Homo sapiens: one gene and its partners. The protein of the gene in region 2 interacts with the protein of the main gene of each other region in a pairwise test. Each region holds a gene or a part of one and is shown on either strand. Other genes may lie near its edges. The genes, in order: FAM200C, METTL21A and ATRIP.

Region 1 (4,156 bases), on a different chromosome or scaffold from region 2:
AACTAATACATATCTTCTCCAGAAGCAGAACAAAAGAATATGAAATAATGTTGTTCAGGCAGTCCTGAAACACAACCTGGTTAAGTAGTCAGGCTTAGGGGAATAAAAACGTATCCTTCAAACCAATCCTTAGCTAACAAATATTCTAGGTTTCTAAGTGAATGGTCCCAATGCTTTAATAGATATTTAAATTTTCTACATTTTCTGAGTTGATGACAGCCTCCTATGAAAGTTGAAACCTAAAATGAAAGCCATATCTTTTCTCTTTCTCTCCCTTTAGCAACGAGTAAAGGCATAATCCACAGGTAGGCTCAAATATACCTTAGAAAACATTCTATCTCCAAGATAAGTAAGTGATCCCCAAAGTTTCCAAAGTTCTGTGCCAGAGAATGTGGCTGAAATAAAGTAACAGGTACACATTTAAATCTGAATGCCCACTTTGGACATTAAAAGAAAAATCACAAGCCAAGAATATCCACTTAAAGCATTAGCTTTCAAGTGGATCTACCAAGATGAACTAGTTGTAAAGTGTACTCCAATAAAATAAGCTGAGCTGTTACAAGGTTGTTATGAGCCTGTTAAATTGGAGGATGTCTGCCAATCAAAAAAGACAACCTGAAGTTTAAAGAGCTGATCTTAAGACTTCTTTTGTCAAGTAATGAGACTACATGACCACTTTTGCTTAGAACCACTTCTAATTAATGACGATAAAATTATGACATTACCATAAATGCTTATTTTTCTGTATTCTATTAATGTATATTTATCATGTAATATTTGGGGAGGAAGAGGGAATAAAGGAAAATGTTTTTAGTCACATTAGAAATCATTACAAGAGGGGCCCTGCACGGTGGCTCACGCCTGCTACCCCAGCACTTTGGGAAGCCAAGGCGGGCAGATCACTTGAGGTCAGGAGTTCCAGACCAGCCAGGCCAACATAGTGAAACTCTGTCTCTACTAAAAATACAAAAATTAGCTGGGTGTGGTGGCGCATGCCTGTAGTCCCATCTACTCGGGAGGCTGAGGCAGGAGAATCGCTTGAACCCAGGGGGCAGAGGTTGCTGTGAGCTGAGATCATTGCAGTGAGCTGAGATCACGCCACTGCACTCCAGCCTGGGTGACACAGCCAGACTCTGTCTCAAAAAAAGGCTGGGTACGGTGGCTCATGTCCATAATCCCAGCACTTTGGGAGGCCGAGGAAGGCGGATCACCTGAGGTCAGGAGTTTGAGACTGGCCCTGCCAACTTGGCGAAACCTCGTCTCTACTAAAAATACAAAAATTAGCTGTGCATGGTGATCCCAGCTACTGGAGAGGCTGATGCAGGAGAATCGCTTGATCTGGGAGGCAGAGGTTGCAGTGAGCCGAGATGATGCCACTGCGCTCTCCAGACTGGGTGACGGAGTGAGACTCTGTCTCAAAAACAAAACAAACTGGAAATCATTACAAGATCTGTTAAGAGTCCATTCCTATCCACCTTGACTATGTCTCTCAAGTATATTTTAATTTAAAATTTATCTGTTTTGAACAGTTTTAGGAAAATCAATTTAAAGTATTCTTCTCCATAACCCTCAAAAAGGGAGAACAGGTGGCAAGAATTTTCAAGGGCCTCAAAGATGAACTTACTGCCCAAGAGGCTTGTGTTTTAGAACCTCACAATTTGCACTTGCGCTTTTGTGGTATTTAGGAATTACAATATCCTAAAAAACGTAAACATTAAAAAGCATCATGATAAGGAGATATTGTTAAACAGGCATGATAATGGTATTGTGGTTGTGTTTTTAAAAAGTCCTCATTTGTTAGATACAGACAATTATTTACAAGTGAAATAAGATGTCTGGGATTCCTTTGAAATACGTACTTCAGCACACTCACAAACATGCACAAAGCGGGGTGGAGATAAAAGAAATGACTGGCCTTAAGTTGGTAACTCTTGAAGCTGGATGATGGGTATACATCATTACACCGTTCTATTTTAATGTATTTTGGAAACTTTCCATAATAAAAAGATAAAAAGCATTATCTTAAGATAGATATCACTCATTTTAAGCATGATTCTTTTGAGAGATTATCTTCAGATGCTTAATGAAAGATCTGATATAACAAAGTAAAATGTTTTTGCAAGTTTATGAAGGGTAGATATGAAAAAGTATTACAAATGAGAAAAATCAGTTAAAAGTGAACACTCACAAAACAAATATTTAGGGAATGCTAATATATATATATTCCAGCAGTGAAAACACCAAAGTGCAGCTGTAAACCTAAAACTCCAAACCAAATACAATTCAACTTCTTTCTAGCCACTGCGTATGCAAGATCATGATAGGCGCAGGTGTCTGGGGAGGCAGAGCATTTAACCATTACATTTTACAGTTAAAATCAATAGCCAGGAGAATGGGGGCAGGAACTTGGTGGCTGGGCAGACGCTCCAGGGGCAAACGCCTGGGATCGTGGCTTTGTCACTTACAGGATGGGACCTTTCCAAGCCTCAGTTCCTCCAGAGGGGATAACAGTACCTACCTTACAGGGTTGTTAGGAGATTTAATTATAAGAATGCATGCAAATAACAAGCAGCTCTTAACTGATAGGACCTGATGGTGTTACTGTTAAGGACGGAGATTTTTACAGCCTCCCGGGTGAGATAAGAACGCCAGCTGCTAGGAAAAAAAAAAAAAAGACTCAGCGCGGTCTCCGCCCGCCCGTCTCCAAGCCTGAGGCGCAGGCCTATGGGATGCACGGGCTTCTTTTAGGCGCCCGTTTCAGGCTCCAGTCCCACTCTCCGCTCAGCCTAGGGCCCAGCCTCTGGCCGTCGGAACCAGTAGAGACGGCGGTTCCTCGGGTCCAACCCCCGGGCAGGAATCTGCGGTGCGCCTGGAGAGAGAAGCATCCGCAACAACCTCCGCCTCAGCCAGGCCCGGGTTCCATCCGGGTTCTCCAGGGTGCTTCCCGCCCGCAAACTGGGAGAGGCGTCTCCCACACGCAGGCGCAGTAGCAAAGGGCTGTGGGATGGGCTGGCTGGCTTGAGTATTGAGCATGCGCGCTAGCCCTTCCCAATTTTTTTTTTAAGATTGTGTACGTGGAACAAGAAATCGTTTGTTTATTGTGTCTGCCAGAGAGGATGAACTGTACAATTTCAGGAATGGAAGGGGCTGTAAACTCCACATAGTTCTTTTTAACATGCAGAGCACTTAAACTTTTATATTGTGTCGGGCTTTGAGCTTGGAGATAAAACGCCTGATAATTGCCATGTTCCATGTGGAATAAATGAGAGAAAAAGAGAAGGAAGCTCATTGTAATTTCAGATTAGACATTTCAGCAGTGGAGGATGAGCTTCCATAGCTTGTGTACTGTTGCCTATGCAAGCTGATCCCACTTTCCGTAAGTGGGAGCATAGGGATGAATTTCCATGTCATCATCATATATCTGAAATATTTTTATTTTAAATTCTTTCAACAACATGATTTCAAAGAAATAAACCCATATTAGAGAGGTTTTAGAGAAAAATCCCAAGTAGAAACTAGGAAACGTTGTTGAAAGAAACCGGAATATAGCCCTTTCCTGTTTGGGGGTCTTTCCAGAATTCTTATAAACTTAATGAGTTTACTCATTTTTGTACAATCTTGTTAGAAGCATTCCATAAGACTAGTGTGTGTGAGGAGTGGTGGGGCGTCAACGAATGTGGGCCAGATACATCATTTTCAGGTGTTAAGGGTGAGCCTGGTAAATATTGACGGGCTGCTGAAGTTTTTTGTGGATGGAAGAAACTGCTAAAGACCAGCCTTGTTGGTCAAGAAATTAGGGCCTTCAATACTAGAGAAAGGGGTAGGCTTCAGAATCCCACAGCTAGCTTCATGTCCTGACTCCAACGGTTAGGATTTGTGCAGGTTACTTGGAGTTAATTCCATGTGCTTTTTGTAAAACTTACATATCATCCATTACCCCATGAAATTCTTTTGAGGAAGGAGATAACATTATGACAATTACAGTACATAATTCTCGCACTCAAAAGGCAGCTATTATTGAGATAATAAAATCAAAGCTCAATCTGAGTAATGTCCTAGGCATTATGTTTTTTTCTTTTTTTTTTTTTTTTTTTTTTGAGACAGGGTCTCATTCTGTTGCCCAGGCTGGAGAGCAGTGGCGCAATCTCAGCTCACT
Region 2 (3,651 bases):
AGGGGGGACTGCTACAGTTCCAAGTACCATAAGACCAGGGAGATTTTCAAACTAAGAACGAGGATTTGAGAGTCAGATTGGATTCAAATTCTAAGCACAATCCATTAGCTTTGTGACCTCAGGCAAGTTACTTACCCTCCAAGAAGCCTCCCTTTCACCACTGGAAGGGCGCTATAAGTAGGTAAGGCCTACTTACCATGCAGGGTGACTGTGAGAATGAAAGGGTGTAATGCACAGTCCTCAGAACACAGGAACTACTCAGGAATTAGCAGCTGGTTTTTAACAGGAAAGTCTCATCACCCTATATTAATATCTACATAGCACCGCTTTTTTTTTTTTTTTTTAATCTTCTTTCTTTACCTCTACCCACTAAACTCAGAACGTAAGCTTCCGGAGACACCTGCCAGCCTGTTTATTGCCCCATCCACAGTGGACCGCCAGGCTTCTGGTGGGTTCTCCCCAAATTCAGGAATAAATGACTAAGGTTACAAAAAGAGAATATACTTTAAAAAGAATAATAATTAATCTCTTCCTGACATTTCAAAATCACTACCTATTCTAGTACTCACTGATTCTATTTTGAAGAGACTAACATTTTCTTACCCTCAGGCTCCAACAGCAAAACTTCTCCAACCTAACACTTTGTAGTGACTACAAATAGTGAGTATGAAAATCATACAGTAGCAGAGAAATGCTTATGACATAATGTGAAAACATCATTTGTATAGGTGTGTGTATACGGATACACAAAACACACATACGCAGACATATATATTTACATATATATAATCATAATTACAACTATGATTAAAAATACAGATGGAGAGAAACAAAACATACCAAAATGCTAATGGTAACTCTGGTGGTATCTGAAATATCTTATTCTGACTTTCCCAACCCCAGAGAACCAGATTGCTAGATCAGAAAAAGCAGTTACTCAGAGAGTAATCAACACTCGTGGAGCACTTCCTTTGTGTCACTCAGTGAGCCAGCAGATGTTATACACGCAATCTCATTGGTTCCTCACTGTGGAGTAAATATTACTATTATGCACAATGTACAGATGGGGTAATCAATGTTTAAAGGTTAAGCAACTTGCCCAAGGTCACACGACTAGTAAGAATGAAAAGAAATGTCAAAACCAAGTATAACTAAGCCTATGCACTTTGCTACACTAACATGTCTATACACCAGCCAAGAAAGTTTTGCATGAAGCCCTGGTTCTCAGGAGGAAACAGAAGAAACCTCATTTCCCCTTATAGTAACTCTTATATCAGCAGAGAGAGAAGTTGGTGTTACAGAAAAAAATAAAACAGGCCAGGCACGGTGGCTCACTCCTGTAATCCCAGCACTTTGGGAGGCCAAGGTGGGCAGATCACCTGAGGTCAGGAGTTCGAGACCAGCCTGGCCAACATGGTAAAACCCCATCTCTACCAAAAATAAAAAATTAGCTGGGCGTGGTGGCACATGCCTGTAGTCCCAGCTACTAGGGAAACTAAGGCAGGAGAATTGCTTGAACCCGGGAGGCGGAGGTTGCAGTGAGCCGAGATCATGCCACTGCACTCCAGCCTGGGCAACAGAGTGAGACTCCATCTCAAAAAATAAATAAATAAAATAAAATAAAATAAAATAAAATAAAACAACTAACTGTGTCTAACAAGCCTGGTTTTGAGTCCCAGATCTCCAGTGATCAGGACTTCAGAAAGTAGCTTCATCTCCCAGAATCCCAGCTTTGTTTGAAAAATGAAAATTAAAAATAATACCTAACATACACGGGAATGTTCTAAGGCTCACCTGAAAAGAATAAAAGGCAGTGTACCAGCAAGGGCTTCATCGATGACTTAAGTGCTGTGGTTGAAGACGGACGGAAACCTCTGTCAATTTACACAGACTTTCAACCACCACCCCTGCCCATGCTCCCTGTCGAATTTTGGAAAGCAGCAGCTAAGCAGAAAAAGAAATAGTGAAAAAGTATTGGGTTTCTGGAAAACAGGCAGGACAAAAGAGGGGCTTTAGCTGGTCCTCAAATATCTGTAGACAATGCGATGGGTTTAGAATACTCTGGAATCCTGGATCCTTCCTACCCAAGTGTAGTCTGAGAACCAGCAGTGTCGGCATCACTACTGACATTTCTACTGCTTGTTAGAAATGCAGGTTCCCAGGCCCTGGTCCAGCCCTGCCAAATCAGAATCTGCATTTTAACAAGAGCACCAGGTGACAATATGGAAGTGATAAACATTATACATTGTATCTTGAAAGCTGGTCTACCCTTATGATTAGATAGCTTGAACTATATATGTCAGAAGTTATAGAAATGAGTCAATAGTCAATAATAAAAATAACAATGAAGCCTAAAAATGCTCTAGCTCCAAGCCTCAATTAATGTGTGTATACCAAATTTTAAAATGACAAACTTTGATATCAAGTCAGAACTGTATACTGTTCATACAATTTTAAAAATAAGAAGTCAGTACAAACTATAGTGGGGGCTAGCCCTCCCTACAAGAGAAAAACCAGCAAAGTTTCCTCAGCAATGAAGAAAAGACTATCTGCTCTATCTCCCTCACAGGGTTAAATCAGATAGTGTATGGGAAAGAAAGCCCCTGAATGTGAAAAAAACTCTATACATGGGTAAGATTATTCTCCTTGAATCAACTCACTTTAAGATCGTATTATTGGCATCACAGAATTGAAGGGGGCAGAGCAATCTCCCATGGGAAGTATAAATAACAGAGTGTGTGTGTGTGTGAGAGAGAGAGACAGAAATTAGAGAGAGAGAAATTAGCCCGTTAGCCTCACTGGAGTTAAGAACCCCAGCAGTTGGCCCACAACTCATAAGTATAAGCAAAAGATAATAACCCAGTAAGGGGAAAACCCACGAAGGGTTTTGCGCTAAGAAAACAGCAAATGCACCTCTCAATGAGTTCTGCTCACTAAGGAGTCAATGCATGACACTCACCCAGCAGGGCAGCCACTATGCCCACCAGCCCCGTGCCAGCACCCAGCTCCACGGCAGAGCGGCCCCTGAGCTCCACAGCTCCCATCTCCAGGTATGTGGAAAGAACGATGGCCTGAATGAAAACACAGTGTGATGACGATTAAGGTCAACATGTGCTTGAGTAGCTGCAGGGTTTCAGGTCAGCTACACCCACCCCTCTCCCACTTCGAGGTTCAATTCCCAGCTTAACAACACACACAGGAACTTAGCTGGTGCAGCAAGGTAACCTCCCCCTTAGAGCAAGCACAGGGTCCCACAGCAGTGCCCAGAGATGATGCCCACACTAAATGGGGTCCTGCTGGATCTGGAAAGCTTAATTTTTTTTTTTTTTTTTTTTTGAGATGGAGTCTCAGTCCATCTGTCACCCAGGCTGGAGTGCAGTGGCACAATCTCAGCTCACTGCAACCTCCACCTCCCAAGCTCAAGCGATTCTCCCACCTCAGCACCCCCAGTAACTGGGACACAGGCGTGCACCACCACACCCAGCTAATTTTTGTAGTTTTTTTGGTAGAGATGGGGTTTTGCCATGTTGGCCAAGCTGGTCTTGAACTCCTGAGCTCCTGCGTCAGCTTCCCAAAGTGCTAGGATTATAGGCGTGAGCTATCACACCCAGCCTGGAAAGCTTAACTTTTTACTGTGTCACAGCACTTTTA
Region 3 (3,651 bases), on a different chromosome or scaffold from region 2:
TGCCAAGTCCTGCAGGGCCTGGCAGTGTAAGCCGATGAAGAACTGTACAAGGGGGAGGAAATGCACGGCTCCAGGAAGCTGGCAGAGTGGGAAGGCCCTTCTGCCTCCCTCTGCTGGGTCTCCATCACGTGAGCACTCATTCCGGGCAACCAGATTCAGTCCAGTGAATGCCAGGTTCTGTGCTTCTCTCAGGGCTGAGAGGGAAAATGACCCATCATAAGAACCTGTGGTCCTGAGGCCTGACATTCCAGCCAAGGTACTGGCAACAAACACAAAGAAAAATAGATTAAGTGTGGGATGGAGATAAGGTCAAGAGCCCCAAACAGCCTGCCTGCCAAATTCTCCAGGCTGCCTGCCCTTCCCACAGACTTCTCAGGCTGGCCAGGGCCAGAAAGGAATTTGCTTCCAGGAAGCTCCTTCCCAAACAAGCTTTCCAGGAGTCTTATGCTTACCTGCCAAACCCTGGTGGCTGCAGGGGGGTGCCAGCAGGAGACTCAGAACTACTACTCAGGAGGTGGCAAAGGCTTAGGGATGACCCTGGGATCAAAGGCTGCTTCAGGAGCAGGTTTATCAAAATGGAACCTGCAGAAGACAAGATGACTCTAGAAGGTTCTGACATGGGAGATCTTTTCGGTGGCTTTCAGAAGGAAACAGTAAGGATTCTTTGGATGCCAACTGTCCTCTAGGCTGCCACTAAGCCCCAGGAAGATGCCTGTGGGTGCGGAAGGCTCTGGGACATACCTGCCCTTGGCCCTTTCCACTTTATAAAGTCTTCTGCTTAAGCCACATACTTTGACTTCCCTGGACTCTCTGAAGGACTGCCCGGGGCACCGGTTCTCAGAGGCCTGGGCAATTCTTCTGCATATTACTCAGAGCCATGCAGGCCCCTGCAGGAGAAGCAGGGATTCTGGTACCTTGAGTGTTTGATCTCTGTCTCCAGCTGTCAACAAAGCTTTTCTGGGCCTCTTCTTGTTTTATGGAGTCACCTCTCAGACTGTGGGGCTTACTATCTGAAATGTGATAAAATGTAAATCAAAACTTGAGCCCAGAAGCATGGGCATATTAGAAACTTTTACATGCAATGAGTTTAAAACACACGCTGTTCTACTTCTTCGAACTTGGAACAAACAAGAGCCAAAGCGGCTCAAGAGCCCTGCATCTTTTACCTTCCTTATGTAAAACAGGAACTCATACAAGGAAAGGAAAAGAAAATCAAGCTGTTTGCCTCACTCAAAATGAGGCAATTAGATAAAACAGTGACCACTAACATTGACATGGTGCTTGTTACGTGCTAGACAGTGTTTTAAGAGCTCTATACGCATCAGCCCATTTGTTCCTCAGTGACCCTACAAGGATTTATCATTAGGTCTGTTTTACATATAGGGAAACTGAGGCACAGAGACTAAAGGACTTGCCCAAATCATATAAGCCAGTTAACAGCATTACTGGGACTCACATCCAGGCTACTGGGCTCTACTGCCTGCTTGTAACACTACTGTACACTGCCCCTTTAGCTGCTAGATGCCAAAAATGTAAGTGGGCTACAGTTTCTCAGAAGTGTTATGATGGCCAAGGATTTGAAAGGTTGATGGTAAGAAGAGGGTCAATGTATCCGATTTATAAGATACACTGACATAGCAGTCTGAAAACCTACTGATGTTAGATTGTCTCTCTCTAAAAAACAGCAGATCCCCTCAATCTGGACTGAGTTATAAAAACTCAAAAGCTGGACTACAAAAGGAAAACAGAGGCTGGGCACGGTGGCTCATGCCTGTAATCCCAGCATTTTGGGAGGCTGAAGTGGGTGGATCACGAGGTCATGAGATTGAGACCATCCAGGCCAACATGGTGAAACCTGTCTCTACTAAAAATACAAAAATTAGCTGGGTGTGGTGGCGCATGCCTGTAGTCCCAGCTACTCGGGAGGCTGAGGCAGGAGAATCGCTTGAACATGGGAGGCAGAGGTTACAGTGAGCCGAGATCACGCCACTGCACTCCAGCCTGGTGACAGAGTGAGACTCCGCCTCAAAGAAAAAAAAAAAAAACAAGAAAAGAAAAACAGATTCCTGCATACTAGCTAGGTTTTTGGCATGGTCAATTGATGCTGTGATGGTTTAAAAATATGCCCACAAGCATGATGGCAGGTGCCTGTAATCCCAGCTATTCGGGAGTCTGAGGCAGGAGAATCACTTGAACCCGGGAGGCGGAAGTTGCAGTGAGCTGAGATCGTGCCATTGCACTCCAGCCTGGGTGACAGGGTGAGACTCCGCCTCAAAAAAAAAAAAAAAAAGGCCCACAAATGCTTTGACACAACTCCCCTTCAAAAGGTATAAGCTTGGGAGGAGGGGGGAGGGATAGCATTAGGAGATATACCTAATGCTAAATGACGAGTTAATGGGTGCAACACACCAACATGGCACATGTATACATACGTAACACACCTGCACGTTGTGCACATGTACCCTAAAATTTAAAGTATAATAATAAAATAAAAATAAAAAATAAAAATTAAAAAAAAGGTATAAGCTTGGTTTCTCCCCTTGAATGACGCCCAGACTCAGTGATTTGCTTCTAACAAATACAATGTGGCAGAGGGGATGCTGTGTGACTTCTGAGGCTAGGCCATAAATGGATAGCTTCTGCCTGGCTCGCTCTCTCTGGATTTGCTAGCTTTAGAGGAAGCCACCCACCAGGTTAAGAGGATACCCCATATCCATGTGCAGAGGCCCATGTGGCAAGAAATTACACTGCCAGCCATGTGAGTGAGCCACCTTGAAATAGATCCTCCAGCTTAAGACAAGCTTTCAGTGATTCCAGTCCCTGCAGAGATTGTCCCCTCTGTGCCTTGTCAGAATTGCTGATCACAGAAATTGGGAGAAAATAAATAATAATTGTTTTAAGCCACATATTTGGGTAGCTTGTTATACATCAATAGATGACTAATGGACTTACCCTCTCTGCCCACCAGAGGCTTGTATCCTGACTCCGTCTGGCAGGGGTGGGGAAGGGACATGTTAGCACTAAAAGACTCCTTTGTAGGAAAAGATGTTTTTCCAAATTGTGGAGAACATGCTTCTGGCTTTATAACCACAGAAGGGTTTTTCCTAGGACTGGAAAAAGTTAACTATGAAAGCAAAGTAATGATTCTACTAAAACCATTCAAAATATCTGGTTACAAAATTTCTAACAAACTTTAAACTTTTCATGTCTAGGTGTTTTAACCAAAGGTTTTATCTATTATATGTCTACCATTCTTTGTCAGAGGAGCAGTGCAAAATTCCAGGCATTTGTTTTTCTTTTTAAAAATATTTTAAAATTTTAATTTCTCTATAGAGATGGGGATTCACTAAGTTACCCAGGCTGGTCTGGAACTGCTGAGCTCAAGTGATCCACCCACTCTGGCCTCCCAAAATGCTGGGATTACAGGCATGATCCACTGTTACTGGCTAATTCCAGGGATTTTGATCCAAATTATTGAAAATTCTTTTACTCATTTTTATATTTTTCTAATCATCCAAAAATATAATATTAGCCATAATTCCTTTACTATTCTTTATTATCACTATTTACAATTCCACCAAAACATTTTTTTTTGAGACAGAGTCTTGTTCCATTGCCCAGGCTGGAGTACAGTAGCATGATCATAGCTCA

Evidence for each region.
Region 1: the proteins of METTL21A (region 2) and FAM200C interact in binary tests that used the Homo sapiens proteins (3 or more experiments, as listed by UniProt).
Region 3: the proteins of METTL21A (region 2) and ATRIP interact in binary tests that used the Homo sapiens proteins (3 or more experiments, as listed by UniProt).

The regions. Positions count from the first base shown.
Region 1 is NC_000005.10:160,397,121-160,401,276, forward strand, and holds the start of FAM200C (protein FAM200C), read right to left. Parts: upstream 2,935-4,156; 5' UTR 2,519-2,934; intron 396-2,518; exon of another isoform or gene 322-395; intron 1-321.
Region 2 is NC_000002.12:207,618,847-207,622,497, forward strand, and holds part of METTL21A (protein N-lysine methyltransferase METTL21A), read right to left. Parts: intron 3,072-3,651; coding exon 2,960-3,071; intron 1,945-2,959; coding exon of another isoform or gene 1,895-1,944; exon of another isoform or gene 1,849-1,894; coding exon of another isoform or gene 1,795-1,848; intron 1-1,794. UniProt on the Homo sapiens protein: Protein-lysine methyltransferase that selectively trimethylates residues in heat shock protein 70 (HSP70) family members. Contributes to the in vivo trimethylation of Lys residues in HSPA1 and HSPA8.
Region 3 is NC_000003.12:48,456,718-48,460,368, reverse strand, and holds part of ATRIP (ATR-interacting protein), read right to left. Parts: intron 3,111-3,651; coding exon 2,953-3,110; intron 1,011-2,952; coding exon 915-1,010; intron 583-914; coding exon 453-582; intron 260-452; coding exon 1-259. UniProt on the Homo sapiens protein: Required for checkpoint signaling after DNA damage. Required for ATR expression, possibly by stabilizing the protein.